Regions from separate parts of the Homo sapiens genome. Here regions 1, 2 and 3 are each reported to be linked to region 4. Evidence: microRNA targets listed by miRTarBase, many of them from high-throughput screens and not tested one by one. Region 4 holds a microRNA gene; each other region holds the end of a gene's coding sequence. Distances are between the middles of the regions.

The links. The annotated mature microRNA hsa-miR-1295b-3p reads AAUAGGCCACGGAUCUGGGCAA and lies in region 4 at 2,188-2,209, opposite strand. An mRNA with a match to its seed (bases 2 to 7 or 8) in the 3' UTR can be bound and repressed. Matches are read on the target gene's strand: a 7mer-m8 pairs with bases 2 to 8, a 7mer-A1 pairs with bases 2 to 7 and ends in A, and an 8mer does both.
Region 1: the mRNA of MOB1A is a reported target of hsa-miR-1295b-3p. Seed matches in the 3' UTR shown: 8mer at 3,295-3,302.
Region 2: miRTarBase lists WRN as a target of hsa-miR-1295b-3p. Seed matches in the 3' UTR shown: 7mer-A1 at 3,042-3,048.
Region 3: miRTarBase lists CLCN6 as a target of hsa-miR-1295b-3p. Seed matches in the 3' UTR shown: 7mer-m8 at 1,591-1,597.

What each region holds. Positions count from the first base shown.
Region 1 is chr2:74,150,582-74,157,703 of GRCh38, forward strand. MOB1A (MOB kinase activator 1A) reads right to left here. Exons shown (of 6, transcript NM_018221.5): 6 at 1,947-6,064. The coding sequence ends at 5,987. It overlaps BOLA3-DT (BOLA3 divergent transcript), which reads left to right. Exons shown (of 3, transcript NR_045636.1): 3 at 1-1,808. Among named protein-coding and RNA genes, the nearest start is that of BOLA3-DT, 6.2 kb to the left of the region's middle.
Region 2 is chr8:31,172,267-31,179,366 of GRCh38, forward strand. WRN (WRN RecQ like helicase) reads left to right here. Exons shown (of 35, transcript NM_000553.6): 35 at 729-3,872. The coding sequence ends at 836. LOC105379358 (a long non-coding RNA gene) reads left to right here and starts at 4,809. Exons shown (of 2, transcript XR_007060884.1): 1 at 4,809-5,367; 2 at 5,822-7,100. RefSeq lists an enhancer at 1-982.
Region 3 is chr1:11,839,641-11,846,762 of GRCh38, forward strand. It overlaps CLCN6 (chloride voltage-gated channel 6), which reads left to right. Exons shown (of 23, transcript NM_001286.5): 23 at 503-3,490. The coding sequence ends at 583. It overlaps NPPA (natriuretic peptide A), which reads right to left. Exons shown (of 3, transcript NM_006172.4): 3 at 6,069-6,374. The coding sequence ends at 6,369. It also overlaps NPPA-AS1. Among named protein-coding and RNA genes, the nearest start is that of NPPA, 4.6 kb to the right of the region's middle.
Region 4 is chr1:171,096,864-171,103,985 of GRCh38, reverse strand. MIR1295B (microRNA 1295b) reads right to left here and starts at 2,247; the gene lies at 2,188-2,247. FMO3 (flavin containing dimethylaniline monoxygenase 3) reads right to left here. Exons shown (of 9, transcript NM_001002294.3): 3 at 13-201. MIR1295A (microRNA 1295a) reads left to right here and starts at 2,180; the gene lies at 2,180-2,258.

The sequences.
Region 1 (7,122 bases), not on the chromosome of region 4:
TCAAGTTCTTTTGTATGATTTAACCACTATCTACCTGTCCAACTGAAATCTACCCTTCAGTAATATTATACTTGCACCTCCCTTCATAAGCTATGCTACAAGTTTGGTTATGCAGTTGCCCACCTTTTAAGGTTCAAGCCTTGTCTTCTCCAAAGAGCCACCTCTGACTGCCTCACAGTAAGCTTAGGGCCCGCAACTTACCTGTAACTTTTGTTGCACTTATGGCCTTTTACAACTATCAATTTATGTATGTGTCTGTTCTCACTGGTTTATAAGCTCCCTGAGGACAGAGCCTTGCTTGAGTCATCTGTCAGCAGCCCAATATGGGACAAAAAGTGCATGCATTGTAATTACTGAACAGAACTGATAGAGGCTCAGCAATTTGCGCTCCATAGGTCTAAGTTTGAACTTTTCTAGAAAAGGATTTGCAGGACGATCTGACGAATCTTGGGCTTCCAAATTAGTTCCAACAGTTCTAGTATTTTTTTTTTTTTTTGACAGAAGCAAATAAGTAAGTTTTACTTTGTGATTAAAACAAAAGTGAAATGCATTTAGTCCCAGGAAATGTCAATCCTTTCTGCATCTTACTTTTTTTTGCTGTGACCTCGAGATTCTCTTGTTCTCTTCAGTTGTATTGGTCCATGATCACTCATAGCTTTCATACACATATATACATCTGAAACTCAGAAAATTCATTAGGTAGGAACTCTTTGGATGCATCTCCTTTTTTAACCTCATTGGGATGATTTTTCGTTGCACCATCATTTTATAGAGCTTCCTAGCACTGCTGAGCATGCAGAATTTTTGCAAATGCAATCCAGAGAAACAGACTTGCTATATACTAGCTATTTGAACTTGTCTGAGCTTATGTGGCATGGTCTAAAGAATACTGAAATATTTCTGGCATACCTCTTAATTGCAGTCACTTTCTCCAGGTTGCTTTATGGATTAAATGAGATAACCTACTAAAGGACTCCAGTAAAAAGCTAAAAAGGTAGCTAGCTTTTGAGGTGTTGTGGCAGACTGGCATCTAGTGGCCAGCGATAAAGGTGCAGACTAGTGTCCACACCTAAGTGGGGACAGTGCAGGCTGTAATGTCCATACCTAGTGGGGACATCAATGGGGTATTTGTCAGAGAAGCTCCATGGCATAGTTTGGACATTGTTTCTGGCTGTGCAGGTTCAAACCCAGAGTCTGGCTCTCCCAAAGATTATCTGAGTTATTCTATTATTTTACAAAGTTTGAAATAGCCATTAGATACCCTTACAAACTTATCATTTTTGTGATTGATTTTAAGTCTACTGAAAATGTCAAAAGAAATCCAAAACTGATTGCTAGTAACTAGGCCAGGTGTGGTGGCTCACACCTGTAATCCCAGCACTTTGGGGCCGGGGCAGGCAGATTGCTTGAGCTCAGGAGTTCGAGACCAGCCTGGGCAACATGGCAAAACTCCATATTTACAAAAAATACAAAAAATTAGCCGGACATGATGGTGTGTGCCTGTTGTCCCCGCTACTAGAAGGCTCAGAAAGAAGGATCACTTGAGCCTGGGAGGCGGAGGTTGCAGTGAGCCAAGACTGTGCCACTGCACTCCAACCTGGGCAACAGAGACCCCAGCTCAAAAAAATAAAATTAGTGTTAACTTGTACTGTTTAGCCACATTCATTAAGTTTTTAATTTTAACTCTACTATCGCACAACCAGGAATGTACAAGAGATCTGGAGCCTGATTTGCATGGCAGGAAGGAGACCACGTATTTTTGTTTGGGATGGGTTTTAGCCACTATCAGAGACATAGTTTGTTTCTTAGGGGTTCGGTCCCAGTAGTATGATACTTAGTTCATTTAGGAACTTCCTTTTTTAACGGCTAAGAAAACATTTTAGCTACTAAATGATATGCAAAGATAACTTTCCAAATTTAAGCTGTACTCAAAAATCCACAGAATCTGCAAAACTCTCAAGTTTCTATATTTAAATAGAAATGTGTGTTGATATACATACTTTAATCAGTCATTTCTTGCTTTCAATATATTTTATTCTGACGAAGTTACAAAAGTAGATACAAAATACTTTTTTTAGAAGTACAGTTAACTGACTTAGAAAAATAGATAAAGCCCCTAAGGATTTTAAAACACAACATAAATTTTTATGTAAAGAACATTTAAAAATATTTTAGATGGTAACCAAAACTAACTTACACAAACTATTTTTGATGTAGAATAGAATGCTGTTCTATAATAAGAAGTCTGTAGCACACTGGTAATCCATTTGGATCTACAGAATACTTGTTTGGAACAGAATCTGATAATGAGAGAAAACTCAAATGAATGTCAGTGCAGTTGCTTCAAAAAAATTACTGCTACCACATGTACTATCATCCCCCAAGGCCTTTTACAGTCTGAAATATCAAAATTGAAAGCAAAAATAGGATGACCAAAGGACTACTATTTTACCTCTTTTCAGAACTCTACAATAGTAGAAACTAAATTCCCTTATGGATCTCAGGGGGAAATAATGTGCCTGTTGAAGGGGCTCAGTGTTTGGTGTCCAGGCTGGCATTTTTCAGGTGAGGGTTTCATACTGACAGGAGGCAGGCTCCTAAAACAAGGCGGTAGCACCAGCACCATGACTAGGGCTGCTTTAAAACAAATTTCTAGGACTTACGCTCTTTGGGCCTGATTTGTTAATGCTTATGAGGTAATGATATTATGTTTGAGAAGCTCTACTTCTAGTATACCTCAATGCTCAGAGAGAAAGCCAACAATACAATCAGGAAACCACAATATTGACAAAACTTAGTACTACCACCAAGATTGTTCCTCTTGCCTTGGCACTACTAAAAAACTTTACCTTTGTTACTAAAGTCATGGTGAATACAGATTTTGCATTTCTCATGTAAGCAGCTATATAAGCTAGGGTTCTACAAGCCTTAGATGAAAGGAAAAACTTTGCTGGAAGCCCTGTAAAAATCACTTTATTCACAATCTGAAGAATGAAAGACAAATTTGGCTGTCAATACAAAAACTGTAGTACAAGGAAGTTCAACTGTTTAAAAATCTGCACATCACTGTACAAGTGTTTTTTGAAGGCCTGAAAATTAAAGCACCATAGGATTAACTGCATAATTTAGCAAGCACTCTCTACCCCATGACTGTAATCATGTATGAAGAGCAGAGATCAGACACTGAGAGGAGATGGCTTCTGATTAGCAAGGGGGAAGGGAGTGAGTGTTATGGAACAGGCAAACCTTGGGCATGGGGAGATAAAAGTGAGAAGAGTCAAAAAGATTGATTTCTATAGGCCGGGCACGGTGGCTCATGCCTGTAATCCCAACACTTTGGGAGGCTGAGGCGGGCGGATTGCGAGGTAAGGAGATGGAGACCATCCTGGCTAACACGGTGAAACCCCATCTCTACTAAAAATACAAAAAATTAGCCAGGCATGACTAAAAATAGAAAAAATTAGCTGGGCGTGGTGGCGGGCACCTGTAGTTCCAGCTACTCAGGAGAGGCTGGGGCAGGAGAATGGCATGAACCTGGGAGGCAGAGCTTGCAGTGAGCCGAGATCCCACCACTGTACTCCAGCCTGGGTGACAGAGTGAGACTCTGTCTCAAAAAAAAAAAAAAAAAAGATTGATTTCGTCAAACTGTTATCAAAGGTTGGCCCTCTAGCCAACTCAGGAAGGCGCCATCCTCTTCCCATTATCTCCCCTTCCTCCAATTCTCCTCCTCCCCTTGGCTCCCTAGCCTTGGAGGTAAACACTAATATTTCAGTGCACTGTTGGTTAAGCCAGATTGGCTTGGGAACCTGGTAATGTTTTTATTTTTATTTTAAAAAAGGACAGTCTTGAGTCTCAAAATACCAACACATCTCTGATTTATGTCCCATTTATAAGCTGCCTTTACTACTGTCCTGACATGTGATCGTCTTTCATTTGCTTTGGAGCTTAGTGGTGAAGAGAGGGAACATTTCCATAACTGAAAATAAATGGAGAAAAGTGGTAACTCTTTTGTTTGAGAATATTTGAAATACTAGAAATAATGAGGAAAGTACAAGCCTAGCTGAGAAACTAGTTTCATCACTTGTGGACTTAAAAAAGTAAAGCTAACAGGGTTTAAAGTTGAGAGGCAGTTCACATCCTAAGTGATACCTAGAAACCTGCTTTCTTGTTCGCAAATGATCAACATGAACATACAGAATGGCTGACATTTGGACCTTTGGATAAGCTTAAAACATGGATTGTGGAATGTCTAATAGAGGGCTTTTCTCTCTTTTTTTTAATAATGACTGTCCCACACTTTAATTCCTCAATGATATGTGGATGCTAACTAAATCAGATGAAATGTTTTCTTTAAAATTCTGTATATATTTAAGAATTTCTAGGAAATGATTATTTAAAATGGAGTTTCTAAGTAATTATTTTCTTTATAGTTTAGTGGAGTAAGAAAAATAAATCTAAAAAAAAACATCAAATCTAACCTTTATCAAAGCCATCGAGGAGGTTGGTAAAATACTTTGCAAAAATCACAGCTCTGAACCACATAGAATGCTGATGAACTTAAAGCTTTGCCAGTTTGGCAAGTCTTCCAGTATAATACTTGTTGTGCCTCAGTACATTTTAAATAGACAGCTAGAGTTTACTAAATCCTAGGAATCAAATAAAAAATAAATGTTTTCTTCACTGAAGGGGAAGGCTTTTATATCCCAATAGAAATAGAGGAATTTCAAGTTTTGATACAAAAACAATTAAAACAAGATAAAACCCAAGTGGAAGCTCAGTCCATCTTTTGAATATTAACAAAATGAGGATTTTTTTAAAACTTATTTCTCCCATTTTGTTTCCTTTAAACACATACACTCACTCACTCTCTCAAGAATAGGTAGCACACCAAAACTTTATCTGTGTTATAAGATGTGTACACCTTCATGGTTTATTGTGGTTTTCCTTAAGTTTTATCCTTATTAGGATGAAGTTCATGCATTTCTACACTACTCTTAACTAAGGCTCAAGAGACAATAAAAACATAGAAGTAATTTTTTAATAAAAGGAAATAAAATAATCAAGTACTCTGAGTATTTTCCTCCATTCTCTTATCCAGAATTTTAAGGCCTCTGAAAAATAATGAAATAATAAAAATAGTGGTTTTGAGATCTAAATTTATTAATATTTTGGATTCCTTTTCTCAGCCAAAAGCTACTATCTGAATTAAGCTTTTCAGTTTAAAAGCCTGGAAGACCATCCTTAGAAGACATTAAAAAATTACTTCTGATACACACACTCCTAATAATTTAGATAGATATGAAAACAATCTCAAATAAAGATCAAAAAATAAAGTCCCTGTAAAAATAACTTTGGTTGCTCCCACCCACACGTCATATGATGATTTAAACTGCAATCATGAATTTTGAAAAAATAGACGTATCTTATCTATAAAAACACTACCATACAAACTTGAAACTAAAATGTTATCTGAAGTGACACAGATGTTCTAAATCTCAAGGATACTGAAAAATACATTTTTTATTCGTAAAATAAAAGAATAAAACCAATCTGATTGTGTTATTAGGAAATTTGTTCTGGAAACTTATTCATAAATTATTGATGGAAATTCTTAATGTCCATTGTGCTGTCACCTAAAACAGATTCAATCATTTTCTTGTAAAGAAATGACTGAGTAAATGAGTAAAAGAATAATAAGTAAATTTATAAGCTACAGGTTAACCATCACATATTACAACCAAGTATGACTATGTGATAACAACAAGAGTGGTCACACAGTACTTAAGATTTGGCTGTGTCCTTAAGGTCTTACTCGGAAACTATCACACCAACCTACCTTTGGGATAATTTTATCAGTAGACACAGGCAATGGGTATCTTTTTATCCTGTTTTCTTAAAGTTTGTATCACTAGTCTATAACAGATAGCAATGAGATAGTTCTAGCAATAGATGAAGCAAGGGGGTAACTGTGTTCTAGAAGAAACATTTATCTGTCTTTTGATCCAAGTTTCTCTATTAATTCTTGAAGAGGTGCCAGCTCACGCCTATCAATCAGATTAAACTCCTAAAAAGAGAAGAAAAATAACAATTAAAAATGGATCTAAAACTGAAACTCTGTAAATGTCTTTTGGAGAAGGGATTCCCAACTCTAGTTTTCTGAAGTCCAAAAGAATGATGAAATAACCTCTGTGAACATTTTAAAGTAGGCATTTATTCTTTTTCTTTTTTTTTTCTTTTTTGTACAGATGTGGTCTATGTTGCCAAGGCTGGTACTGAACTTTGGCCTCAAGTGATCTGCCCACCTTGGCATCCCAAATCCCAAAGTGCTAGGATTACAGGGGTAAGCCACCACGTCCAGCCCTCTCTTTTTAAAAATATAGGTATGATATTGTGATATAAGTATTTGGTCTTCCTTTTTCTTTACACACAGCTCCTAAAACCCTTGTTGGAATCACCAGAGTGCTAAGAGTATCTTGTATGCTAATGAGATGACTGGTGGCTGGAGGCTCCTATAAAGCTTCAGGATGGGAACTGGTCAACCTTCAGCCAGCCCTCTCCCCTTCCCAGATCACAGCCTCTGGGGAGGGGAAAGGGCTGGCTGAAGGTTGAGTTGATCATCAATGGCCAATTATTTAATCAATCATGGGCAAGTAATGAAGCCTCCATAAAAACACAAAAAACAGGGCTCAGGAGAGCTTCCAGATAGCTGAACACGTGGAGGTTCCTGGAGCATGGCATGCCTGGAGAGAGCATGGAAGCCCCTTCTCCTTTGGCCCTACACATCTCTTCCATCTGGCTGTTCATCTGTATCTTTTGTTAACATCTTTCATAATAAACAGGTAGAGATAAGTATTTCCCTGAGTTCTATAAGCGGCTCTAGCAAACTAATCAAACCCAAGGAGGGGGTTGTGGGAACCCTGGTTTATAGTCAGAGGTATAGGTGACAATGTATTACTTTTGATTGATATCCCAAATGGGGGGCAGTCTTGTGGGACTGAGCTCTCAAACTTGTAGGATCTGATGCTACCTCCAGATAGACATTATCAAAATTGAATCAAATTATAGGACATTCATCTGGTGTCCACTGTAGAAATGATCACTTGCTTGGTGTGTGAGGGACAG
Region 2 (7,100 bases), not on the chromosome of region 4:
CAAAGTGTTGGGATTGCAGGCGTGAGCCACCTCACCCAGCCTTAAATTATTTTTTTTTCAAGGATGTTTAACCTGAGGGTTAGAGGCTCTTTGGCACGTGAGCTGCTGAAATGTGTGTGAAAGTGTTGTGCACGTGTATGTTTCTCTTTTTTTCTGGGAAGTGGATCTGTAGTGATTCTTAGATGAGTCTATGAGACAAGAAACTTTTATTTTTTTCATTTATTTAGCGAATGTTTGTTAAGCGTACTATGCCTTGGCCACTCTACAGGGTGCTGATTGGACCAGTCTGTCTACCTACCGTTGTAGATGTTAGAAGCTATATTCTTTTCACATGCCTAATATAACTCTTTGTGTATGTATACATGCCCAGGCATGTTCCTTCCTCAGAACATTAAATTCACCATTTTGGTCAACTCAAAGCAAGTACACCATGGGACACAGATCTGAAATAATGTCCAGATTTTTACTTACTGAATGAGGTGTGTTGAGTGTATAAGACTACATGATGAGATGGCAAGTAATTGCCTGAAGAAATGATGTAGTGATTTTGTGTGTCTTATATTTATTTACTTTTTGATCCAGAAATAAATTATATAGATACCACTATTTTGTTTGGATGGGGGAGAAAGGATGGGTGTGTATTCAGGAACTTATGTTACTTTTTTGCAACTAATACCCCTTCTCAGTAGTACAAAGATTTGATTTCTTTTTCTTTCTATTTCCTACAGACTTCATCTGCAGAGAGAAAGAGACGATTACCTGTGTGGTTTGCCAAAGGAAGTGATACCAGCAAGAAATTAATGGACAAAACGAAAAGGGGAGGTCTTTTTAGTTAAGCTGGCAATTACCAGAACAATTATGTTTCTTGCTGTATTATAAGAGGATAGCTATATTTTATTTCTGAAGAGTAAGGAGTAGTATTTTGGCTTAAAAATCATTCTAATTACAAAGTTCACTGTTTATTGAAGAACTGGCATCTTAAATCAGCCTTCCGCAATTCATGTAGTTTCTGGGTCTTCTGGGAGCCTACGTGAGTACATCACCTAACAGAATATTAAATTAGACTTCCTGTAAGATTGCTTTAAGAAACTGTTACTGTCCTGTTTTCTAATCTCTTTATTAAAACAGTGTATTTGGAAAATGTTATGTGCTCTGATTTGATATAGATAACAGATTAGTAGTTACATGGTAATTATGTGATATAAAATATTCATATATTATCAAAATTCTGTTTTGTAAATGTAAGAAAGCATAGTTATTTTACAAATTGTTTTTACTGTCTTTTGAAGAAGTTCTTAAATACGTTGTTAAATGGTATTAGTTGACCAGGGCAGTGAAAATGAAACCGCATTTTGGGTGCCATTAAATAGGGAAAAAACATGTAAAAAATGTAAAATGGAGACCAATTGCACTAGGCAAGTGTATATTTTGTATTTTATATACAATTTCTATTATTTTTCAAGTAATAAAACAATGTTTTTCATACTGAATATTATATATATATTTTTTAGCTTTCATTTACTTAATTATTTTAAGTACCTTTATTTTTCCAGGATGTCAGAATTTGATTCTAATCTCTCTTATGTAGCACATGTGACTTAATTTAAAACCTATACTGTGACACAGAGTTGGGTAAACGATGATTATTTAACTTTAAGCAGTTCACCATCCATTTCAAAGCCTTTGATTGGCTTTTTTGTAAATAAAAATAACTTGTTAAGAAACAAATATATCTGTCATAGAAGAACTAGAAAATCCAGGGAAGTGAGAAAAATGAAAATAAAAATCATTCATAGTTTTACTAGTAGCTAATCACAGTCAACCTCTTTTGTGTATCCCACCAGACTTTTTTATATTCATTTGTTTTTAGTTAAAATATAAAAGTCTCGTATATTCCCATTTTTCTGCATTGCATTACCAGAAGGTAGTGGCGCCTATTAAATATGTGATATGTTGTTGTCCAGCCATGGCTTCTGCATTTGCATGCTTTTGTGTGTGCATCTGCAATACCCTGTGAATATCCTGTGTGATGGAGTGGCAAGTACGCACAGACACGTCTGCTGCATGCCTAGGTACGAGGCTGTCTCCAGGAGAAGCACTTGTTTGATTATTTGAGTTGCCAATTGAATTTGCTGCTTTTTTTCATGGCTTGCCATTTTCACTGAAAAGAATGACTAATGAAAAACGATGATTGGTTATTAGATTTGGATGTTTGGCAGACATTTTCTCAAAATTGAACTAAGTTGGCCTCTTCACGGAAAACAACTGGTATTTGTTGTGCCAATGATAAAATTGGAGATTTCTAGCAAAATGTATAATTTTGGAAAAGTTGTGTTCCTCCACTGGAAGCTTGACAGCTTTCCTTAACATAAAGACTTCTCTTTCTCTTCGCTTTCACTACTACTACTACTAATTCTTCTTCTGATTCTTCTTCTTCTCCTTCTTCCTTCTTCCTTCCTTCCTCCTCCTCCTCCTTCTTCTTCCTCTTCCTCTTCTTCTTTCTCTCTTTCCTTCCTTCCCTTCCCTTCCCCTTCCTTCCTTCCTTCCTTCCTTCCTCCCTCCCTCCCTCCCTCCCTCCCTCCCTCCTTTCTTTTTCTTTCTCTTTCTTTCTTTCTTTCTCTCTCTCTCTCTCTTTCTTTCTTTTTCTTTCTCTTTTTCTTTCTTTCAAGCAGTCCTCCCGCCTCAGTCCCCCAAAATAGTGGGATTACAGGTGTGAGCCACCATGCACAGCCTTACATAAAGCCTTTTCTAATGAGATGGATAGTAATTAACAAATGTGAGTTTTTGATATTATATAAAGATTTTTTCTGTGTTTCGAAGATCCGTATAACTCAGTGAATCAGTATGTTCTGGATGACTAATATGTGATGTTAAGAAATCATGACTGAGGCCGGGCGCGGTGGCTCACGCCTGTAATCCCAGCACTTTGGGAGGCCGAGGCGGGCGGATCACGAGATCAGGAGATCGAGACCACCCTGGCCAACATGGTGAAACCCCGTCTCTACTAAAAATACAAAAATTAGCTGGGTGTGTTGGTGCGTGCCTATAATCCCAGCTACTCGGGAGGCTGAGGCAGGAGAATCGCTTGAACTCAGGAGGCGGAGATTGCAGTGAGCTGAGACTGCGCCACTGCACCCCAGCCTGGCGACAGAGCAAGACTCCGTCTCAAAAATAAAAAAAGAAATCATGACTGGGTAAAAGATCTGTTCAGAGTACAAGATGGACCAATGGATTTGATATATTTGAATATAACAGAGTATGAAAAAGTTTATTGATATAGTTTCAGATTACACACTGCAACTAATCTTTAAGAAACTATTACTTGTCCACTTTTTGGTAAAATTTCAGAGAACAATGTCCACCATTATCTGAACAGGCTATTAAAATACTCTTCTCTTTTCCAACTACGTGCCTGTGCAAAGTCAGATTTTTTTCATATACTTCAGCCAAAACAGCATATCAAAATGGATTGAATGCAGAAGTAGATCTGAGAATACAGCCACTTTTGTTAAGCCAGACAATGAGATTTGCAAAATGTAAACAATGCTGCTGTTCTCAGTTTTTAAAAATATGTTTTTTAAAAGTATTTATGTTAATGTGTACTTGGTTTACTACTGCTATTTTTAAATAAAACAAGAAACATTTTTAAATGTCTGTTTTAATTTCTAAAGTGGTAGTGATAGATATAACCCATATTAATAAAAGCTCTTTGGGGTCCTCAGTGATTTTTTTTTAAGAGTATGGAAGGGTTCTCAGACCTAAGAGATTGAGAAATGCTGATGTAATGTTTTATTATAAAGGTGTACCATGAATTATGTACCTTACTTCATATTGTTGGACATTAAAGTTGCTTTCAGTTTTTTTGTTTTAAACAGCACTGCTTTGACCTTTTTTAAAAAATGAGTCAGGGTCTTGCTGTGTTGCCCAGGTTGGAGTGCAGTGGCTATTCACAGACATGATCATAGCATGCTATAGCCTTGAATTCCTGGGCTCATGTGATACTTCTGCTTCAGCCTCCTGAGTAGCTGGGACTATAGGCGTGCACCACTATGCCCAGCTGCTTTGAACATTCTTGAAATGAAATATGGTATAGTCTCATACCATATCATAGCCAGAGGGGGAGAGAGAGAATTTTGTTGTTGTTGTTATGTTATCTGTAGTGGACTTTATGCCTTCCCAGCATAAATTCTCTCTTTCCCCATTTTTCGTGACTCTTGATTTTTGTTGGGGTTCGTTCCAAGGAGAATAATTTCCATCTGGATATTGGATTGGCACCTGTGACCTCTTCTGAGCTAGACCCTAGTAACAGCGTTTGGATCTGGGGTAGGTGTGTGGCCAACTGAGCTGCTGGTTCATGCCTTTCCTGAAATGAGCCCTACCTCTGAATATTTCAGAAACATGGGACATTAACTTCCCTTTACTTACGTTAAACCCCTTTGAATGAGGAGTTGTTTTTCACTTCCAGTTGTGTTCAGTTGTCACAGAAGCACAGCGATGTGATTGGTGGAAGGACCCGTCAACAGACCCAGAAGATGTAAAGTGTTTTTAATCTCAAAGGATGTGGAATCTCAGAGATAGTTACACCGAGTAGAGGATGAAGCGGCTCCTGGATGGAGGCAGAGGCTTCCTGGATCTTCAAGTTCTGTATGGGTTGTTGTATGAGGTTGGTGCAAAAGTGAGGCAGGAGAATAGGGTCTGGAGGCAAGGAAACTAAGGCCGATTCACACTGACTTCCTAGAACTAAATCAAAAGGAAAACCCCAATTTTCCAGACCTAAATAACAAAAGTACCAGATGGCTCCTCCCTTTCAACTGCCCCTCCCCCACACCTTTCTGCGTGGCACATGGAAAATTGAAAGTATCTCTGGTTGCTTCTGCGTAGGAATGTAACTTTGTAACCAATCAGACGGATCGCAGGCCAAGTCGCCTGCATAGAAATGTAACTTTGTAACTTCACTTTAGCCTCTGATTGGTTGCTTTCCACAACCAATCAGATGCTTGCATAGGGTGTACCTGTTGTGACTTCACAAAGTGGTGGAAGTGGTGGAAGTGGTGGAAGGGTGGAAGGGCTATTTAAATTTTTATTCATCCTCTGATTGGTTGTTTCACTTAAGCCTCTAATTGGTTCTTGAGTCCTGGAGCCTGTGAAGGGTACTTTATTTTCAGTAAATGCATGCTTTTTTTGCTTCATTCTTTCCTTGCTTTGTGCATTTTGTTCAGTTCTTAGTTCAAGACACCAAGAGCCTGGACACCCTCCACTGGTAACAAAAGTAACTGGTGTTTTTGCCATTAGAAGTAATGGCACAGAACAAGTACATGAGAGCGATTTCTTATGGAAAATTAAATGGCGCATAAGTCGTGTGCTCAGGTAAGGGAGCTGGGAACCGGTAGAGGAAGGTCTCCAACCCACACCCGTGGGATCTCTGAGTCTTTGAAAGTCCGTCCTCACCCTTTGTGAAGAATGGGAGCACGGCTGGACTCGTCACCGGGGGTTTTGGGGGGCTGAACTTGTCATTTGAGGGTGTAGGGAGGTTGGATGAATCGCAGGGGTGCAGGGAGGGGGCCCACTGGAGCTCCACCAGGACCCCAGCACCCTAGATCCAAACCTGGTCATGCTTCCCATGCTCAGAGGCAAATCTCCCTCCCCTTGGGGGGCGGAGTCAGACGAGACCCCCTCTCCATCCTTTTCCAGGTCCGGCGGGGGCGGGACTTTAAAGGTAAAAACAGCAATTACTTTTGCACCAACTTATCTTCTAAGTTTCGCTCCCTACCACCTGAGTGTGTTTGGAGGCTCTGGCTCATTGTACCTGCCTGATCACCAGGTGCAAGTAGCTGGGCCAGAAGGACCTCGGCACGTTACGGAATATTTACTACAGGAACAGGTGAGCTGAAGGCGAATTCCCCAGGTGTAGCCTGTGACCATAGATTCAGACAAAGCCCTGACTGTTGCCTGGAATTCAAAAAAGCTGTAGCCCTACCAGATAGAATAAGAAAAGAATATAGGATTCTTCCTATTCAAATAGGTTGCATATAATTAAGAGCATGAACGATCCAATGGAATGAACTCAAAGTAGTTTTTGAGTGTAATAGACTTGAAGTGTCTTATGGAAAAGAATTGCAAAACCACAGAAACAGTGAAGAAGGTTAGTTATAGCCTTGATGGGGTAGCTGACTTCAGCAGTCTCAGCTATCTGAAAAGTTATTTACCAGATTTTGGTTGGGAACATAATCCCTAAATCATTTGAGATAATGTACTTGTTTCCTTACTGGGTAAATGTGTTTAAACCTTGAGAAAATGTAGACATAAGTAGAATATAGAATAAATTAAACCTTTGGTAGTTATGTTTTAGGATTAAGGACTAATAAGTACATATTTGATATTTAAGCATTTGTAATGCTTGAGATAATTTATCCTACTCAAGTAACAGATTACTCTTGTGACTCCAATGTAAAATATATCATTGAAAAATTAGTATCTGCTTGTGATTTTTAAGTAGAAACCCTGCCATTTGAAAGGTATTTGCCTTTATTATTGGAGATATTTCATATGAATGTTTAACTTTGTTATTGCATAGAAGTATTTAAACAGATTTCACTTGCAAGAGAAAGATATCTAATAGGTTACTCTTAATCAGTACTAAATTACTACAATTACTATATTCTATTAATATCGATTCATTAAAACCCAGAGCTTTAATTATGTCTCAGAAAATTAATTAAACTTTAGCCTCATAATCAGCTTTATTTTCTAACTCAATGTTTAAAAATTGACAAGTATGTATTATACTTATTTATGTCTTCATTCAGTAAACATTTGCATTTGTAGCATGCAAGACAACATGCTAGACACACGAAAGATGGAATAAATGGAAGAAAATGCAACACAGATCTCATGCTTAAGAGGGACAGATTTACTCTGAAGATTCAATGAAAAAACATCCACAAACAACTTTTCTACAAGAAACAAAACATTTTAAAGAAAACATTTACTTCAGCCGGGCGCGGTGGCTTACGCCTGTAATCCCAGCACTTTGGGAGGGCGAGGCGGGTGCATCACGAGGTCAGAAGTTCGAAACCAGACTGGCCAGTATGGTGAAACTG
Region 3 (7,122 bases), 160 Mb from region 4:
ATGTCCCTTGAAATGTAATTGCCAACTACACTGACAGAGTCCTAACATAGTTTATGACGTGGCTTTGGAGTTCCCAACAACAGTGACACGTGGGAACCACTGTAACGACCTGTAACAAATGACTCCCATAGGTCACTTTGCAAGGTGGTGAGTATGAGGCATGGCAGGGGTCATAATCTCAGGAGACTTCAAGGGCCCCACCGCTTGCACATCTGTGAAGCAGGCTGGTCATGATGGGAGCTGAGCGCTGAGCATGTGCCCTGTGGAAGGACATTTTAGTTCAGATGCCAGCTGGCCCAAGCCCTTTTTGGAGCTAACCTTGTCCCCTTGGCCTCCAGTGTGTGAGCCCTCGTTAGCTGTTTATCCCAATCAAGCTGTGTCTGGCTGTGCACTATCCAGGCCTCCACATTCTGTGACAAACTAACAGGGCCGGCTCCTGTCACTCCTGTTCTCGCCAGCGGGTTTTACCCTGAAGGTGACTCAGGCCTTCTCTTTGCCCTAGATCGTGGGGATCATCACACGGCACAACCTCACCTATGAATTTCTGCAGGCCCGGCTGAGGCAGCACTACCAGACCATCTGACAGCCCAGCCCACCCTCTCCTGGTGCTGCCTGGGGAGGCAAATCATGCTCACTCCGGCGGGCACAGCTGGCTGGGGCTGTTCCGGGGCATGGAAGATTCCCAGTCACCCACTCACTCAGAAAGCCGGGAGTCATCGGACACCTTGCTGGTCAGAGGTCCTGGGGGTGGTTTTGAACCATCAGAGCTTGGACTTTTCTGACTTCCCCAGCAAGGATCTTCCCACTTCCTGCTCCCTGTGTTCCCACCCTCCAGTGTTGGCACAGGCCCACCCCTGGCTCCACCAGAGCCAGAAGCAGAGGTAGAATCAGGCGGGCCCCGGGCTGCACTCCGAGCAGTGTTCCTGGCCATCTTTGCTACTTTCCTAGAGAACCCGGCTGTTGCCTTAAATGTGTGAGAGGGACTTGGCCAAGGCAAAAGCTGGGGAGATGCCAGTGACAACATACAGTTCATGACTAGGTTTAGGAATTGGGCACTGAGAAAATTCTCAATATTTCAGAGAGTCCTTCCCTTATTTGGGACTCTTAACACGGTATCCTCGCTAGTTGGTTTTAAGGGAAACACTCTGCTCCTGGGTGTGAGCAGAGGCTCTGGTCTTGCCCTGTGGTTTGACTCTCCTTAGAACCACCGCCCACCAGAAACATAAAGGATTAAAATCACACTAATAACCCCTGGATGGTCAATCTGATAATAGGATCAGATTTACGTCTACCCTAATTCTTAACATTGCAGCTTTCTCTCCATCTGCAGATTATTCCCAGTCTCCCAGTAACACGTTTCTACCCAGATCCTTTTTCATTTCCTTAAGTTTTGATCTCCGTCTTCCTGATGAAGCAGGCAGAGCTCAGAGGATCTTGGCATCACCCACCAAAGTTAGCTGAAAGCAGGGCACTCCTGGATAAAGCAGCTTCACTCAACTCTGGGGAATGCTACCATTTTTTTTCCAAAGTAGAAAGGAAGCACTTCTGAGCCAGTGACCACTGAAAGGTATGTGCTATGATAAAGCAGATGGCCTATTTGAGGAAGAGGGTGTCTGCCCTTCACAAACACCTCTCTCTCCCCTGCACTAGCTGTCCCAAGCTTACATACAGAGGCCCTTCAGGAGGGCCTCCTGTGCCGCAGGGAGGGTGCGTGGGGAAGATGCTTCCTGCCAGCACGTGCCTGAAGGTTTCACATGAAGCATGGGAAGCGCACCCTGTCGTTCAGTGACGTCATTCTTCTCCAGGCTGGCCCGCCCCCTCTGACTAGGCACCCAAAGTGAGCATCTGGGCATTGGGCATTCATGCTTATCTTCCCCCACCTTCTACATGGTATTAGTCCCAGCAGGCATCCCTGGGGCAGACGTGCTTTGGCTCAAGATGGCCTTCATTTACGTTTAGTTTTTTTTAAAACCGTGGAGGTTGCCCACGGGCCTCGGCACCTGGCCCTGGCAGCACAGCTCTCAGGCCCAGCCCTGGGCGACCTCCTTGGCCAAGTCTGCCTTTCACCCTGGGGTGAGCATCAGTCCTGGCTCTGCTGGTCCAGATCTTGCGCTCAGCACACTCTAGGGAATAATTCCACTCCAGAGATGGGGCTGCTTCAAGGTCTTTTCTAGCTGATTGTGGCCCCTCCATTTTCCCCATTTTCTTATCTCCCTGACCAAAATTGCTTTGACTTCTAAATGTTTCTGCTTCCCAGAATGCACCTGACTTATGAAATGGGGATAATACTCCCAGGAAATAGCGCAGGACATCACAAGGACCAAAAAGGCAATTCTTATTTAAATGTTACTATTTGGCCAGCTGCTGCTGTGTTTTATGGCAGTGTTCAGAGCTTGATCACGTTATTTCTTCCTTTTATTAAGAAGGAAGCCAATTGTCCAAGTCAGGAGAATGGTGTGATCACCTGTCACAGACACTTTGTCCCCTCTCCCCGCCCCTTCCTGGAGCTGGCAGAGCTAACGCCCTGCAGGAGGACCCCGGCCTCTCGAGGGCTGGATCAGCAGCCGCCTGCCCTGAGGCTGCCCCGGTGAATGTTATTGGAATTCATCCCTCGTGCACATCCTGTTGTGTTTAAGTCACCAGATATTTTGTTCCCATCAGTTTAGCCCAGAGATAGACAGTAGAATGCAAATACCTCCCTCCCCTAAACTGACTGGACGGCTGCCAAGGAGGCCCCAAACCCAGGCCCCATGCAAAGGCACGTGGTTTCCTTTTCTCCTCTCTCTGCATCTGCGCTTTCCAGATAAGCCCAAAGACAGCAACTTCTCCACTCATGACAAATCAACTGTGACCCTCGCTCCTTCCATTTCTGTCCATTAGAAACCAGCCTTTTCAGCATCTCACCCATTAGCAGCCCCATCACCCAGTGATCAGTCGCCTCAGTAAAGCAGATCTGTGGATGGGGAGCCTACGGGTGGTAAGAAGTGGTGTTTTGTGTTTCATCTCCAGCTTGGTGTTCCATGGCCCCTAGGCGAGGTGATCAGGGAGTGGGGCCAATGGGCCCCCGGCCCTGGCTTTGGGACCTTGTGCTGAGGGATGATTTGCTCCTGACCTTGATTAACTTAACAGTTCCCAGCTGGAAGGGACACTTTCAGGACCCAGTCCACTGTATGGCATTTGTGATGCAGAATTATGCACTGACATGACCCTGGGTGACAGGAAAGCCTTTCGAGAGGCCCAAGGTGGCCTCGCCAGCCCTGCAGTATTGATGTGCAGTATTGCACCACAGCTCTGCGGACCTTGGCCATTGCCGCAGTCGCAGCTTCCTTTTTTCTGTTTGCACTGTTTGTTTGTATGATGTTAGCTAATTCCACTGTGTATATAAATTGTATTTTTTTTAATTTGTAAAATGCTATTTTTATTTGAACCTTTGGAACTTGGGAGTTCTCATTGTAACCCTAACATGTGAGAATAAAATGTCTTCTGTCTCCTCTGTCTCCTTTAGCCTTTTGTCTCCATGCTGCTTTCTTTCTTTCTTTCTTTTTTTGAGACAGAGTCTCGCTGTCACCCAGGCTGGAGTGCAGTGGTGCCATCTCAGCTCACTGCAAGCTCCGCCTCCCAGGTTCACGCCATTCTCCTGCCTCAGCCTCCCGAGTGGCTGGGACTACAGGCGCCCACCACCATGCCTGGCTAATTTTTTGTATTTTTGGTAGAGATGGGGTTTCACCATGTTAGCCAGGATGGTCTCAATCTCCTGACCTGGTGATCCTACCCGCCTCGGCCTCCCAAAGTGCTGGGATTACAGGCGTGAGCCACCACGCCCGGCCCTGCTGCTCTTTCTTTCAAGGGATACTTGCTTTTTATTTTACTCCCCCTCTTTCTGATGTGTGGAAATTACACTAGGACGTAGTTTTAGAGTCTCAGAGCTCTCCCTATGCAGCTGGGCAGTGGGGCTCTTCATTCTTGCGGGTCCACTTCTCTGTATTAGACAGTGACCTTAATAAGAACAGATTTCATCCTGTGGATCTTAGCAGAGGTCACCGTTGTCTGTTTCTCCCTTCAGATGAACACTCTTCCTGATCCTCTCCTCTAGAATTCATCTCCTCCTGCTAGCAGCCGCGTCCTGGAGGAGCAGCGGATGGGGAATCCATTCTGTTTCTTCCTGGTGTTTAGGAAGTTGCCCCACACACAGATTGCCCCGATGTCCAACCAGAAGAAGTGAAACTGCTGCTGGGTCTGGAGAGGTGAAGACCCGTGGCCAGCTTCTGTTGTTGCCATCGGCCATTGCTTTTTGTTCGCTTGCTTTTGGTTTTGCAAGAAGAGCGGCCTCTGTCTCTGATCTGCTTCAAATCATCATTCCATCAGTGACAGAAGTGGCTGTTCCATCAGTGGTCGCAGCCAGTTCAGCTCCTGCATCCATCCCCAAGTGTTCTGTAAGTCCCAGGGGCATTTTCTGCCTTGTGTTTTTGTCATTTTTCAATCAGTTTCATTCAATGAGAACTCCCTGTGTTACCTGTGTTACGGTGACACCTTGAGAATGGGCTACTTCCCCTCCTAGCAACCCGCAACACCATCCCAGACCTCAGGAGCCAGGTTTGGGCCAGTGCTGTCTCCTGTCGCTCTTACTTTCATCCTTGTCATTCTCTACCCCCTGGTTTTCCTGGTATTTAAAGTCCAGGTAGAGAAGATTTTGACTGGAGGTGGTTAGGTGAGGCTCTCCCCCCACCTCAACCCCCTGCCATTAGTTCACTGGGAGCCTCCCCCTTTCCTCCGCAAGGAGCAAGTTACTACTTCATTTCCTCTTTTCCCAATTTCTGGACAAGACCAAGGCAATTTGACCAACATTTATGGGGCATCAACTCTGAGAGTGCTGAAGGGGCATTTGCCCTCAAAGAGCTTGCAGTCTAGGGACGTAGACACAAGCAATTGCACATAGGCAACTCGTGTTGTGTGCTATTATAACAGTTACATGTGCAACACTGCCTACGAAGGGACTCATTGTTACTAGGCATGAGGTACCAGGAAAGAAGTAGTGTTCATATGAGCCTTAAGAAATCAGTACAATGTCCTCGGGAGGACCAGAGGAAGGACACCCCAGGTGGAAGGAACAGCAGAAATAAAGGCACAGTGGCATGTGTGGGTGTGGGGTGTTGGAGTGTCATAGAATCTGATGAGGTTGGGATCCATGGGGGTAACAGGTGGGAAAACAGTTTACTCTGTTTAAGGTGAACTTATTGCCTGGTGTTTTGTGCTCAGAGCAAATACCCTCTTCAGGAGCAGATACAAAAAGCCGGCATCTTCTCCAGCAGCTCTTAGTAAAATACAAGCCCAGGCCCTTCAGACCCGGATTAGGCAAAGACTATGTCTGTTTTCCAAATACTTGTTAGTACACAAAAGGCACATGAACTTGTAGTTTGTCTGCATGGCAAACCTTTCTTCACTTTGCTCAGTTTTTATTTTTTTGAGACAAGTCTCATTCTGTCACCCAGGCTGGAATGCAGTGGCACAATACCAGCTCACTGCAGCCTCCACCTCCCAGGCTCAAGCCATCCTCCCACTTCGGCCTCCTGAATAGCTGGAACTACAGGTGCACATCATCATGCCTGGCTAATTTTTAAATTTTTTGTAGAGATGGGGTCTCACTCTATTGCTCAGGCTGGTCTTGAACTCCTGGGCTCAAGTGATTTGCCCACCTTGGCCTCCCAAAATGCTGGGATTACAGGAGTGAGCCACCACACCCGGCCTGCTCAGCTTTTAAATTCAACACTCTGCCTACTCTTTTCAAAACTAAAAGTACCATTACCTTAGCTGTAGAACCTAACTCTCTCGAAATGTACCAGAGAAAATCTAATTAATACTCTCATTTTCTGAATGTTCCCCCCTAAAAACAACAAAAACCCCACTAGGAGTGGAATTTGAGGCCTCCCCAACCACCTACCAAAAAAGGAGGGTGAAATGAAAGGAAGAAGAAAAACTCAGCATTCTTTCCTCTGACAAAGAGTAAAACGACAAGGAATATCGGCCTGAATTCTCTTCCCAAGAAGAAAGAAAGCACACCAACGCAGGCATTTGTCTTCTGTCCATGGTGCTGAAGTTTATTCACTTTCAAACCACTTTCAGTAACAGGTGAGGTTCTACCTTAAAATTTAATGCATGGGGTGGGAGAGGCGAGGAAGTCACCATCAAACCACTTTATCTACAGTTAGCATAAGATGTGAGAAGTGTTGACAGGAAGCTGCAGCTTAGATGGGATGATCACAACTCCATGGCAACAAGATGACACAAATGCAGCAGAGACCCCAGGGGACAGGAGCCTCTTGCAGTCTGTCCCTAGGCCCAGCCCTGCTTGTCCTCCCTGGCTGTTATCTTCAGTACTGCAAAGAGAACACAGACATATCTGGCTTGGTGACCTGGCTGTCCTGGAAAAGTCAGCTTCATGTATGAGTGTGCCCATCCTCTGAACTTGATTACTGACCACCTGCTTCCCACCGGCCCCCACCCCAGCCTGATGACCCTCTGAGCTTCATGAATTGATAAGCAAGTTACTCATCAGAGTAAATTTCACTTAAGCCCTTCAGGATCTTGCAATTCTGGGGAGGAATATGAACTGCTAATCAGCCATGCAAAGATAACTTGGCTCTATGAATATTTTAATTTCCCAGTGCTAGTGGCAGTTGCTTTTTTTTTTTTTTTTTTTGAGACGGAGTCTTGCTCTGTCGCCCAGGCTGGAGTGCAGTGGTGCCATCTCTGCTCACTGCAAGCTCCGCCTCCCGGGTTCACGCCATTCTCCTGCCTCAGCCTCCGGAGTAGCTAGGACTTACAGGCGCCTGCCACCACGCCTGGCTAATTTTTTGTATTTTTAGTAGAGACGGGGTTTCACCGTGTTAGCCAGGATGGTCTCCATCTCCTGACCTCGTGATCCACCCGCCTTGGCCTCCCAAAGCGCTGGGATTACAGGCGTGAGCCACCGTGCCTGGCCTTTTTTTTTTTTTTTTGAGACAGTCTCGCTCTATCACCTAGGCTGGACTGCAGTGGCGTGATCTCTGCTCACTGCAACCTCTGCCTCCTGGGTTCAAGTGATTCTCCTGCCTCAGCCTCCCAAGTAGCTGAGAGTACAGGTGC
Region 4 (7,122 bases):
ATAACATCTTACCTTAAATTGTATGTACTTCAGGAGGTTCTTTTCTTTGGCAAATGCAATGATATATTCCTGGATCTTGCTGTTGTGCATAAAGTTGGGGAAGTCATCGGGAAATGGGAAGTCTGGGAAACACATCATCTCTTTGGAAGAGTTGGAAAAGACTGATTTGTAAATGCTAGCCCTGCCCTCCTCTGCATGGTCCTGTGAATGTATAGTATCAAATGGAAGCGAATTGGTAAATGAGTATACTGATCATGGTCAGGGCTGGTTCCAAGTAATTACAGTCATCCCTTGGTATCTATGGAAGGTTCCAGGACCTCCGTGGTTACCAAAATCTACGAATGCTCAAGTCTCTTACATAAAATGATATAGTATTTTCGTATAACCTATATACAGATACTTTAAATCATCTCTAGGTTACTTATAATACCTAATGCAATGTAAATGCTTAATGAATAGTTGTAGTGTATTGTTTTTTGATTTTGATTTTGATTTTTTATTTTTATTTTTGGATTTTTTAAATCAATGGTGGGTTGAATCTGTGGATGCAGAACTTGCAAAAACAGATGGCCAAGTGTATACTTATTTGAGTCATCCTTTATCCACAGTAAATTCGGTAAGACACACATAAATTAACTTCACTTCAACAATTGATGCTAATCATGGAAACTTACTAAGGGAACTTAGGATATGGAAGAATACCTTTCTTAATATCTTTTAAGAAAATATATCTTAATCTTTTCTAAGGGAAACAAATTTTAAATTTCATTATGTCCTTTAGGCCTATGTAACTAGAATCCTTTCATTCCCTTGAACCATTAAATATGGTGACAGAGATTTTTCAAAATTCAACCTTGCATAATTTCAATGTGTCAACTCATGAGCACAAGCATCTAATGGTCAATTTATAAAAGCAAACAGTAACAAGAGGTTGCAACTATTGATCAGATTTGTAAATGTAAGCATTTTAAGACCTAATTTTTAAAAAATTAACCTTAGAATTTCTATAATGTATAAAATAAGGTTAACTATTTTGAATCTAACACAGAATTTATGGGCATTGCATGCCTTTTAAGCACTTATGTAAGTAACAAAGTTTTAGCTTTCAATGATGTAAAAATATCTGAATTTTCTTTAACTCTAAGGAATTATAGAACTATGCTAATAAAGCCTTAGAGGAAATGTTAAGTGATGATGAATAAAGAAAAAGAACATTGAAGAAAGAATGATCAGTAATGAGAAGTTTAGGATATTGTGTTGTGGTTCTTTAGCCACACACTGAAATAAACTGGGAGCTTTAAAAAACACACTGAGCATTAGGTCCCACTCTCAGAGAATTTGATTTAATTGACAGCAAGTTTTAAAAGCTCTTCAGGTAATTTTAAGGTGCAGCCAAGTTTGTCAGTCACAATGTAGAGTTCAACAAATGGAAGCTCATGACCAACAGGCTACAGTTACTGTGGAAGAGCTTACCATAGGACACATCTGTTACAGCTGTGAGCTCTGCAAAGCAAGCTGTTGAATGAATAAAAGGCATTAAGTTAAAAAAAAATACTGGTTGGAGCATGATTAGGAAGAGGTGGAGCCTTGGTTTAGCTCTGTTGAAGCATCAAGGTACTTATATCTCAAGTTTCATGATGAAAGATCAGATTGTAGATCTCTATGTGTAGTTGCTAGTTCATAGTGGAAAGTACTGAGCACTAGAAACTTCTAATTAGAGCTCATCTAACTGAAAGTTGTCAGGGCTCCCAGAACATGAAATTTTAGTATAATATTGGAATATTACAATCACGTCAAAAGCCAATGTGGCTGCAGTTTCATTATTGACAAATAATTAATTGGCAGATTAGTTGCCATGTTCATTTCAGAAAGCAGCGTGTTCTTTAAATAGGACATGAGTTTTCTGCTGCTCACATGGTTTGTTGACTCTGCTATAGGCATGTGGGATGGGGAAGTGCAAAAATTTGTAGCTTTCTGTGAGTTGGGTAAGTTTAAAGAGATGATAATCAGCATAAAGAGAGAAGAAACATTAAAGAAAAAAATTGATACATAGTCCAGAAAAAAATCAGAGGAAGTTAAAAAAGGGAGGTATTCCCAGAAGAAAGCCACTATTCATAAAACTTCATGCAAAAATTCATATGATTTACTGATTTATTGTTTGGGGAGCTCCTGAGAAAAGAGGACATTTTGCCCAGATCCGTGGCCTATTCAGAAATGTGGCCTGTGATTAGGCCGCAGATCTGGGTGAAATGTCCTCCTTCTGTGACCAAAGAAGGTGAGGGAAATACATCATCGTGGCTCTAGATCAGGGTTAGAAGTCAGAACTAGAAGGGCATAGAAAGTGCTGTAGTAAACAGCTCCAACAGTTTCAACTATATGCACCCTTAGTGTTAGCTAAGTTTTAACCAATGTTTGGATCTCTCTGAAATTTAAAAAAAGTTAAGATAATGTAAAATGATGATGTTAGAAACCAAAGGGAAGGCAAATACAAAATTAGAACAATTTTATAACAATCTTATAATGTGAATACTAAGCCTATTGCTGCAGACTTCTAGTGATCTGAGAAACACTGCTGTTTGCTCCATCATTTGCAATCTATAAGCCCCCTCACAGTAGTAAAATAGGAAACGCTGAAAAACCAAAGGTATTAGTTTCTTGTGGCTGCTGTAATAAATTACCACAAAGTTAATGGCTTAAAATAATAGCAATTGATTCACAGTTCTAGAAGTCAGCAGTCGGGAATCACTATCAGTAGGCTGAAAACGAAGTGTGACAGTACCATGTTCATTTTCAGAGGCTCCAGGAGAGAATCCATTCCTTGCCGCTTCTGGCTTCTGGTGGATGCTGGCATTTCTTATTTTTTTCAGTGGCAAGACCCCTCTTGTACGCCTTCACTCATGGCTCCTCTGGCCATCATCAAAGATAGAGCATAGCATCTTCAAATTTCTCTCTTTCTGTTGAGGTCATCACATCACCTTCTCTCTTCTCTTTGTGTTAAATCTCCCTCTGCCTCTCTCTTTTAACGATGCATTCATTATAGCGTTTGGGGCTCACCCACATAATGCAGAAAAATCTCTCCATCTTAAGATTTTTAACTTAATTATATTTGCAAATACCCTTTTCTCTTGTAAGTAAGATAACATTTACAGGTTCCAGGAATTTGGATGTGATATCTTTGAGGAGGGGCATTGTTAAATTGTTCAGCCTATTACAGGCCATCCTCTGGTTCCCAAGGATTCACATCCATCCCATCTGCAAAATACATTAACCCAATCCCAACATCCTCAAAGTCTCAACCCATAGCAGCATGAAATCAAGTCTCAACTCTCATTTATATATTTTCAATTCAAAAGTCCAAAATCTCATCATCATATAAATTATCTAAATCAGGTATAAATGAGACTCTGGATATGGACCAGGATGAGGCAAAATTTCTATCTGTGAACCTGTGAAACTAGAAAACAAGTTATCTTCTTCCAAAATACAATGGTGGGACAAGCATGGGTAACCGTTATCGACATTCCCATTTAACCGGGGAGGAAAAAGGAGGAAAGAAAAGAATCACTAATCCCAAGCAATTTTGAAATCCAGTAGGACAAATTCCTTCAGGCTTGAAGGCTTTGGCTCAGGCCTCTGCCCTCAGGGCCTGAGGCTCTACCCTCTGGGCTATCCTTTCTTTTTCTTGAAGGGTAGCACATGTTGCAGTTCAGTTTTATCAACCTATGCTGCCAGGTTCAAATTTTAAAGTCTTCCTCGAGCAGCAAGAAAAGACAAATTAGCTGTCTTTGGCTGTGTTCCTCTCAATAGCCATATCAGCAGTGCGTTCTATCTTCAGCAACGTCTTGCAAACTAAATTTGAGTATGAGGCTTTGGTTAAGATCACTGTGTATAAGATATGGCTGGCCAGGAGTGGTGGCTCATGCCTATAATTCCAGCACTTTGGGAGGCCGAGGCGGGTGTATCACCTGATGTCAGGAGTTCGAGACCAGCCTGGCCAACATGGCGAAACCCCATCTCTACTAAAAATACAAAAATTAGCGGGGCGTGATGGCACACACCTGTAATCCCAACTATTCGGGAGGCTGAGGCAGGAGAATCCCTTGATCCCAGGAGGTGGAGGTTGTAGTGAGCTCAGATTGTGCCATTGCACTCCAGCCTGGGCAACAAGAGAGAAACTCTGTCTAAAAAAAAAGAAGAAGAAAAAAGAAAAAAAAAAAAAAAAAAAAGAAAGACATGGTCAGCTCGATAGGCCACTTGGTGAAATGGCAACCAGCAATTTACAAAGGAGTTAAGAATAGACTAGAGAGAAAGGCAAGCTTGAATTGGGATCTTTTCTCCACCATTATCAGCTGTATGATTTTTTTTCTTTTCTTTTAAAGCTTCAAATTCATTTGTAAAAGGAAAAAAAATATACCTAGCTTATAGGATTACTATAAATATTTAATTAAATAGAAAAAGTCATGTGTCATATAGAAAGTGCTTGATAAAATAGCCCTAAGTTTGGCCACAAAGAAACAAAAATAACAACAACCAAAAAGCCCTAAGAATCACCAGTGTGTTAATCTGAAGCCCTGTCAACACATTTTAATAACATACAGTAGGCTCCACAACATTGTATAAGATGTTGGGGGGTTTCACACCACACCTAATCCAAAATTGACCACATAGTTGGAAGTAAAGCACTCCTCAGCAAATGTAAAAGAACAGAAATTATAACAAACTGTCTCTCAGACCACAGTGCAATCAAACTAGAACTCAGGATTAAGAAACTCATTCAAAACCGCTCAACTACGTGGAAACTGAACAACCTTCTCCTGAATGACTACTGGGTACATAATGAAATGAAGGCGGAAATAAAGATGTTCTTTGAAACCAACGAGAACAAAGACACAGCATACCAGAATCTCTGGGACACATTTAAAGCAGTGTGTAGAGGGAAATTGATAGCACTAAATGCCCACAAGAGAAAGCAGGAAAGATCTAAAATTGACACCCTAACATCACAATTAAAAGAACTAGAGAAGATATATCTCAAAATAATAAGAGCTGTTTATGACAAACCCACAGCCAATATCATACTGAATGGGCAAAAACTGGAGGCATTCCCTCTGAAAACTGGCACAAGACAGGGATGCCCTCTCACACCACTCCTATTCAACATAGTGTTGGAAGTTCTGGCCAGGGAAATCAGGCAGGAGAAAGAAATAAAGCATGTTCAATTAGGAAAAGAGGAAGTCAAATTGTCCTTGTTTGCAGATGACATGATTGTATATCTAGAAAACCCCATCGTCTCAGCCCAAAATCTCCTTAAGCTGATAAGCTACTTCAGCAAAATCTCAGGATAGAAAATCAGTGTGCAAAAATCACAAGCATTCTTATACCCCAATAACAGACAAACAAAGAGCCAAATCATGAGTGAACTCCCATTCACAATTGCTTCAAAGAGAATAAAATACCTAGGAATCCAACTTACAAGGGATGTGAAAGACCTCTTCAAGGAGAACTACAAACCACTGCTCAACAAAATGAAAGAGGACACAAACAAATGGAAGAACATTCCATGCTCATGGATAGGAAGAATCAATATTGTGAAAATGGCCATACTGCCCAAGGTAATTTATAGATTCAATGCCATCCCCATCAAGCTACCAATGACTTTCTTCACATAATTGAAAAAACTACTTTAAAGTTCATATGGAACCAAAAAAGAGCCCGCATTGCCAAGTCAATCCTAAGCCAAAAGAATAAAGCTGGAGGCATCACACTACCTGACTTCAAACTATACTACAAGGCTACAGTAACCAAAACAGCATGGTACTGGTACCAAAACAGAGATATAAACCAGTGGAACAGAACAGAGCCCTCAGAAATAATACCACACATCTACAACTATCTGATCTTTGACAAACCTGACAAAAACAAGAAATGGGGAAAGGATGCCCTATTTAACAAATGGTGCTGGGAAAACTGGCTAGCCATATGTAGAAAGCTGAAACTGGATCCCTTACTTACACCTTATACAAAAATTAATTCAAATGGATTAAAGACTTAAATGTTAGACCTAAAACCATAAAAAACCTAGAAGAAAACCTAGGCATTACCATTCAGGACATAGGCACGGGCAAGGACTTCATGTCTAAAATACCAAAAGCAATGGCAACAAAAGCCAAAATTGACAAATGGGATCTAATTAAACTAAAGAGCTTCTGCACAGCAAAAGAAACTACCATCAGAGTGAACAGGCAACCCATAAAATGGGAGAAAATTTTCGCAACCTACTCATCTGACAAAGGGCTAATATCTAGAATCTACAATGAACTCAAACAAATTTACAAGAAAAAAACAAACAACCCCATCAAAAAGTGGGTGAAGGACATGAGCAGACAGTTCTCAAAAGAAGACATTTATGCAGCCAAAAAACACATGAAAAAATGCTCACCATCACTGACCATCAGAGAAATGCAAATCAAAACCAAAATGAGATATCATCTCACACCAGTTAGAATGGCAGTCATTAAAAAGTCAGGAAACAACAGGTGCTGGAGAGGATGTGGAGAAATAGGAACACTTTTACACTGTTGGTGGGACTGTAAACTAGTTCAACCATTGTGGAAGTCAGTGTGGCGATTCCTCAGGGATCTAGAACTAGAAATACCATTTGACCCAGCCATCCCATTACTGGGTATATACCCAAAGGACTATAAATCATGCTGCTATAAAGACACATGCACACGTATGTTTATTGCAGCACTATTCTCAATAGCAAAGACTTGGAACCAACCCAAATGTCCAACAATGATAGACTGGATTAAGAAAATGTGGCACATATACACCATGGAATACTATGCAGCCATAAAAAATGATGAGTTCATGTCCTTTGTAGGGACATGGATGAAGCTGGAAACCATCATTCTCAGCAAACTATCACAAGGACAAAAAACCAAACACCACATGTTCTCACTCATAGATGGGAATTGAACAATGAGAACACTTGGACACAGGAAGGGGAATATCACACACTGGGGCCTGTTGTGGGGCGGGGGGAGTGGGGAGGGATAGCATTAGGAGATATACCTAATGCTAAATGACAAGTTAATGGGTGCCGCACACCAACATGGCACA